Homo sapiens: one gene and its partner. The protein of the gene in region 1 purifies or fractionates together with the protein of each later gene. This does not show direct contact. Each region holds a gene or a part of one and is shown in the gene's direction. Other genes may lie near its edges.

Region 1 (3,655 bases):
AATGTAATTGGAATCCGTATTTCCTTTTTTAATTTTTCAGTGAACATATACTGAACATCTCCTATGTATAAGTTACTTAATCCATATGAATTCTGTGGGGAATGTGAAACTATGTAAGACTGCCTTTAGGCAATGTGCAAAGACAATGTACCACATGGGTTGCTTATCAGCTTTGTCAGTTATTCATATTTGGAGTGTATTACTTATAAAAGTTCACCTTTCATTTGGGAAAATGTAGTATTTAGCTCTAATTTCTTTTTTTTTTTTTTTTTTTTTTTTTGAGACAGAGTCTGGATCTGTTGCCCAGGCTGGAGTGCAGTGGTGTGATCTTGGCTCACTGCAAGCTCCGCCTCCCGGGTTCACATCATTCTCCTGCCTCAGCCTCCCAAGTAGCTGGGACTACAGGTGCCTGCCACCACGCCTGGCTAATTTTTTGTATTTTTAGTGGAGATGGGGTTTCACTGTGTTAACCAGGATGGTCTCAATCTCCTGACCTCGTGATCCACCTACCTCAGCCTCCCAAGCTTTAATTTCTTAAGCTAATTTATATTTGCTAATCTATGAACAGCTATGTAATTTATTAAAATTTTTAAGTTTATTGGTCTCTGAAAATAATAGAGCTTCACTAATTTTGAACTTTAAGAATCAGTTTAAAGTGAAATATCTAGTATCTACTGAAGATCATTCTGAGATTATTAGAACTTCATTTTCATTTTATATTTCAAGGAATTTGCAACTTAGTCATTATTTATTTATCCCTCCAGGGATAGAAATTGGTTAAAAAAAGAGTTCTCTGCTATTGTTTGGTGATACGCTTTTAAGACTGTACTAATTTGGTAATTGTGATACAACAGTTTCAAATTTGCTTGAATGTTTGCAGCATCTGTATTCCTCAGTACAAACTTGTGTCTTTTTTCATTGCTTTATTCTCACAGTCACTGCAATAACATAGCAAAATTAATGGATTAACAATATAAGGGAAACTGGCATTTAAGACACCAAAGGTCAACTATATTCTCTTAATTTCTTAAAACTTAGTGGAGAAGTTTCTGGTCAGTATAATTTTATAATTTGCATTTGTCCCTTTGATTTGTATCAACACTTCCTTAGTGTTTGTGTACTCTAAAAATAAATTTAGAAGTGTGTTTATTTGAAAGACACAAAATCTTAATTTTTTAAGTTAGTATGTATTTTTAAAGAATCACTTTAATATAGCATCTGTTGTATCATTTGTGCTTTTTTTTTTCCATTAAGGAATAAATGCTAAATTACAGTTTTGATCCTTACTGAAGGATCAGGAAATCATAGATTGAATCCTTGACTGAAATGTCTTTAAATAAGTTAATCTTTAAAACTTCTGCGGTGCTTTAAGTGTCTTGAATCACTGATGTTTGTAACAATTACAAGTACATTCCTGGAGCCAGTTTGTATCTCATAAATCACAATACCTGCAAAATGACAATGTGGGCAACTCATATCTATTTATATTATCAATGGATGGTAAATATATGTTCATGTCTATCAGTGAATATCAGGCTAACTGGTTTTTATGTCAGCAGACTGAGAACTATGAGCAGAGAATACGTGAACAACAGGAACAGCTGTCACTTCAACAGACTATTATTGACAAGCTAAAATCTCAGTTACTTCTTGTGAATTCCACTCAAGGTATGTTCATGTTAATTTTTTATGTATTTCTAGAACCTCTTGGTGAAAAGAAAGGTGTAAGTTGAGTTTTTCTATTTTATTCCTTCGTTGTTTCTCAATAGTTTTGATATTATAACTGTGGTACAGTTATATGTTATGTTTATTTAAATGAACACTTGCAGGATATGGGAAAGTGGACTTTCACATATACTATACTATATGGTAGAACTCTAAGTTTATAAAACTTCCTAAAAAGCAATTTGCCAGTAAATAGCAGCAAAAGCTTTTGAAAACATCTATGCCTTTTGAACCAAAAACTCAAGTCCTAAGACTATATCATAAGAAAATATTTGTTCAGGTACTCAAAAATATATATGCGAGGATGTGTATCACAGTATAATGTCTAATCATGGAAAGCTAGAAACAAATATTCAGTAGTTACACTGATCTATATGAATAGCTATGTAGCCAAGAAAAGTGATGATAATAGGTATTAACTTGTAAGAATATGTGGACGATATATAGCAAAATGAACAAAGCAGGATACATAAATAAGTGTTTTTTTCATTTATGCAGAAAAAGGTGATTCTTGTGTGAAGTTATATGTATAGGAAAAGAAGAATTCTGATAGAATATATAAACCAAAATATTAACTGGAATAATTCACAGGTGATAAAAATTTGGGTAGCATTTACTTTTTATTCTTTTTGGCTGTCTGCATTTTCTAATTTTCCCATAATAAGCATGGAGTCATAATACAAATAATTATCTTAAATAAGAAACGCATACCTGAAAATGTGAATATAAAAGTTGAATTGTTGCTGACAGATGCAAAGAGCATATTTCTAGTTTTCTAAATTCTGCATATTTTACATACTGCTGGCTTTTGGAGAGCAGGGGTTTTGTGTGTTTGTTTAGTGGGAAGGAAAAAATATAAATGGACAACTTGTCAAAGTAACTATTACCTAAAGAATTTTCTAAAACTCCTACCTTAAAATGTATTCTCTTTATGGTTTTGAGTTTGTATTATTTTTTGCTTTTTCAGGTGGTACCAAAAATAAGGGTTTTCTGCTAATGTCCAAGAGGTTTTTGTCTTGCAGATAACAATTATGGCTGTGTTCCTCTGCTTGAAGACAGTGAAACAAGAAAGAATAATTTGACTCTTGATCAGCCACAAGATAAAGTGATTTCAGGAATAGCAAGAGAAAAACTACCAAAGGTAGACATTGCTTCTGCAGAAAGCAGCATTTAAATGCTGATGCGTGACATAGCTTCCTCATTTTATTTTTCTGAAGTGATCTGCTGGAATTCCAAACAGAAGTTCCATATATACAAATATGTGGCTTAAATATTTCTAAATAGAAGAACTATTTTCAAGTAAAATAAAGGCTGAGGTTTTGTATTTCCTACTGACCGTTTTTCTACATCACAAGCATTTCAACAAAGAAAACATTTAACAAAGAAATAGGGCTGGACACACTGACTCACTCCTGTAATTCAAACACTTTGGGAGGCCAAGGAGGGAGGATCACTTGAGCTCAGCAGTTTGAGACCAGCCTGGGCAACATAGGGGGATCCCTATCTCTATAAAAAATGAAAAAATTAGCCACGCAGAATGGCACACGCCTGCAGTCCCAGTTACTCAGTAGGAGGATTGTTTGGGCCTAAGAAGTCAAGGCTGCTGCAGTGACCCATGATCATGACACTGCATTCCAGTTTGGGTAACAGAGTGAGACCCTATCTCTAAATAAATAAATAAATGAATTAATGAATGAATGCCACATACATATGTACATATATGTGTGTGTGTGGTGTGTGTGTGTATATATATAAACAATGAAATAAAAGATTAAAATCAGGTAAATAATAAGACACAGATTAGATAATAGCTTTCTAGCTTTTTCTTCAATAGTCTGTGCTTAGTTTAAAAGAAAAATACACCCAACTAGCTTAAGCAAGACTCTATTGAAGTAATACAGAAAGAAATAGTACATATCTGCAAGGAGAC
Region 2 (3,655 bases), on another chromosome or scaffold:
TCCGTGTAACAAATGTACATATGTGCCCCCAAACCTAAAATCAAAAAAAATATGTGTAGAAAACAAAGAGCAAAATGAAGGACCTAAAACCTAAAAACCATTTATAGTCAATATATAAAAAGGCTTAATACCCCAGTTAAAATCAGATATGGATAAATTTTATAAAAACAAAGTAAACAAAGAGGGTACTGACTCTTGTGATAGTTGGATACCAAGAACCATCCCTCACTGGGGCATGCTGTGGCTCACACCTGTTATACCAACACTTTGGGAACCCAAGGCAGGAGAGGATTGCTTGAGCCCAGGAGTTTGGCACTAGCCTGGGCAACAAAGTGAGACCCTATCTCTACAAAAATTAAAAAAATTAGCCAGGGGTGGTGGTGTGTGTCTGTGGTCCTAGCTACTCAGGAGGCTGAGTCGGGGAAGATTGCTCAAGCCCGGGAGGTCGAGGCTGCAGTGAGCTGTGATTGTGCCATTACACTCCAGTCTGGGTGACAGAGCAAGAGCTTATCTCAAAAAAGAAAAAGACTCCATGATTTAATCTAATCAACTTCAAAAACCCAACTCATTCCTCCACACGCCCTGTGCCTTGGCCATAGCATTTACCTCACCATTCTCCTATGCATTATCTATTTTTAGACCTCTGTCTCCCTTTGTTTAAAATGTTCTCCCAGCCTGGATAACATAGCAAGACCCTGTCTCAACAAAAAAAATAAAAATTAGCTGGGTATGGTGGCATGTGCTTGTAGTCCTAGCTACTTGGGAGGCTGAGGTGGAAGAATTACTTGAGCCCAGGATATTTGAGGTTACAGTGAGCTATGGTTGTGCCACTGTACTCCAGCCTGGGCAACAGAGACCCAGTCTGGATGAGAGAGAAGAGAGAGGGGAGAGAGGAGAGAAAAAAGAAAAGAAAAGAAAAAGAAAAAGAAAGAAAGAACCCATCATCTATGAGTGCTGTCCTCACTGAACACCAGAGGCTGGGTATTGAGTTTACATCAGCTTTTAATGAGCTCTCACTAGGTTTCTTCACCCATTCAATGGGAAGGTCTGCTTCAGAGCCATAATTGTGTTCAACGGGACTAGGTTGCAAGGTTTAATAACTCTTCTCTTCTTTTTAAAATTTAATTACTTTATTATTTCACCTTTTTTTTTAAAGCCACATGTAGGCTGAATTCATTTAATTTGACAGAATAACACTCCTTACTGCTAATCCTGATCAATTTTAGCTTTGTGTGTCTTTGGGTTGGATCCACTCAGATAAGAGGACAAAAGAGGGCCGGGCATGGTGACTAGTGCCTGTAATCCTAGCACTTTGGGAGGCCAAGGTGGGCGGATCACCTGAGGTCAGGACTTCAAAACCAGCCTGGCCAACATGGTGAAACCCCTGTCTCTACTAAAAATACAAAAATTAGCCTGGCGTGGTGGTGGGCGCCTCTAATCTAAGCAATTTAGTGATTTGAGCTGGGCTCGGGAGGCTGAGGCAGGAGAATCGCTTGAAAACCCAGGAGGCGGAGCTTGCAGTGAGCTGAGATCGTGCCATTGCACTCGCAAAAAGAGCGAGACTCCATCTCAAAAAAAAAAAAAACCATTCAAAAAGAGGACAAAAGGTTCATTTGGAAAGAGGATATTAAGAAATAAGGAGAAATCATGAAGGGAATTTTAAAATGAAAACATATTTAGTGGCATTGTTTTCTGTTAGGTTTCAAAAAAGTCTCCATTCCAAGTGAGTATTGGTTTAGGAATTTCTTTCTCCTTATTAAAAGTGTTTTCCTATTTACAGTGAAAATAACTTTAGTAAAATTTTGTGAGTACTAAACTTGGATTTTAAAATCAGAGATTTCGATTATATAGTCTGGAGCCTCAGGATTTTAAGTTTCTGTAGGATTGGGTAAAATGCCATTGTAGATTTTTTGGTCATCAGATTATAGAATAAATACTTAAAGTAACTTCAGATTATTATTTTCAAAACCATAGCAGAAACTCTTACCTTACCTATCTTATTGAGAGACAATGTGAAGCCAAGACTAATGGAGTTAGTGTGCTACATTGATGATGAATGACTGGGTAGTACACCACAGAGGGCTGTGTCATGGAGTGTAAAGGTGTTATTCCATTCCTACACCCTACCATCCGTCTTTCCCCATTAAATCAAGGTCAGGGAATGTTACCTTATGTGATTAAATCTGGTAGAGTCATCATTAAACAGGTGAGATAAATCATATGCAGAGTAACCTACTTTTGGTATTGATGAGACTAGGGTGGTTCTTAAGTATTTTATGGAGATCAGGGTATCTTCCTAAATCCAGATGAAGAGATCAGGTTAAGAACTGCTCGCTTTCAGGCTCCACCTGAAGAAACTATGTAGTAGGCTTCTCTCCCTCTACTTATTTTATCATCTTCTTTGATCTAATAAAATGTTTTCCTTATCAATAAGTAATGTTATCTAGTTTGGCTCTACCAGGTGCTAGAGAAGGCATTCATCATTGTATTGTACTTGCAATAACTCTAATACAGGAAAATGTTCAAACCACCCATAATAAAAGTAGCTAAAAAGCAGATTTCTTAAAGACTTTGTGACCGTTTAAGCTCAGCTGACCTTTCTAAGTTGCATGATTCTTAGAAAGGTCCCAGAGAGATGTCTATCTGGTGCTATATAGCAGTTGCTAATTAAATATTTTTTAATTGAATGATTGATATGAGTTGAACACCCAGTAATTATATTTAAAAAGTGATGACTTCAGTGTTTTGACGCCTTTAAAAGGCTACAGTGGTACAAAATGTAGGTGCTACCATGTGAAATTTGAATGTACAGTGAAGTACATATATTCACTGCAATATCTAGAAATAAATATGTATTCTTATAGGTAGAGGCTAGTTTATCCTTGTAATTCTACTGATAAATATAAATGTATATATTGGGGAAATTTGTGGGACTTTTTCAGTATAAGGAAGAAAAAAATCTGAAAATTGAACTCACTGCAGAAGAAATTTTTTGTATTTTCGGGGGAAGTACCAACTAGATGTGCTAACACTTTGTATTTCTTTATGTTTAGTTGCCTCTTTTTTTTTTTTTTAAACGGAGTTTCCCTCTTTCACCCAGGCTGGAGTGCAGTGGCACGATCTCGGCTCACTGCATCCTCTGCCTTACAGTTTCAAGTGATTCTCCTGCCTCAGCCTCCCAAGTAGCTGGGATTACAGGTGCCTGCCACCACGCCTGGCTAATTTTTGTATTTTTAGTAGAGACGAGGGTTTCACCATGTTGGCCAGGTTGGATCTCTTCACATCCTACTGAGCAATAAATGAGATAGCCTAGAGCAGTGGTTTTCAATTTCAGGTAGTTTTGTTTCCCAGGGAACATTTGGCAAAGTCTGTAGACAATTTTTTATCTTTTTTTTGGAGACAGAGTCTGACTTTGTTGCCCAGGTTGGAGTGCAGTGGCATGATCACGGCTCACTGCGGCTTCCACCTCCTGGGCTCAAGCAATCCTCCCACCTCAGCCTCCCAACTAGCTGTACCACCACACCCGGCTAATTTTTTAATTTTTTGTAGAGACAGAGTCTCACTGTGTTGCCTAGGCTGGTGTCAAACTCCTGGCCTCAAGCAGTCCTGCTTCGGCCTCCCAAAGTATTGGGATGGTAGGTGTGAGCCACCACAC

What was found.
Region 2: the proteins of TANK (region 1) and RNF115 purify together in Homo sapiens (affinity purification with mass spectrometry, with the first as the bait; one large-scale study listed by BioGRID). This does not show direct contact.

What each region holds. Positions count from the first base shown.
Region 1 is NC_000002.12:161,201,928-161,205,582, forward strand, and holds part of TANK (TRAF family member-associated NF-kappa-B activator), read left to right. Parts: intron 1-1,559; coding exon 1,560-1,668; intron 1,669-2,747; coding exon 2,748-2,866; coding exon of another isoform or gene 2,867-2,899; exon of another isoform or gene 2,900-3,049; intron 3,050-3,655.
Region 2 is NC_000001.11:145,814,001-145,817,655, reverse strand, and holds part of RNF115 (E3 ubiquitin-protein ligase RNF115), read left to right. Parts: intron 1-3,655. UniProt on the Homo sapiens protein: E3 ubiquitin-protein ligase that catalyzes the 'Lys-48'- and/or 'Lys-63'-linked polyubiquitination of various substrates and thereby plays a role in a number of signaling pathways including autophagy, innate immunity, cell proliferation and cell death.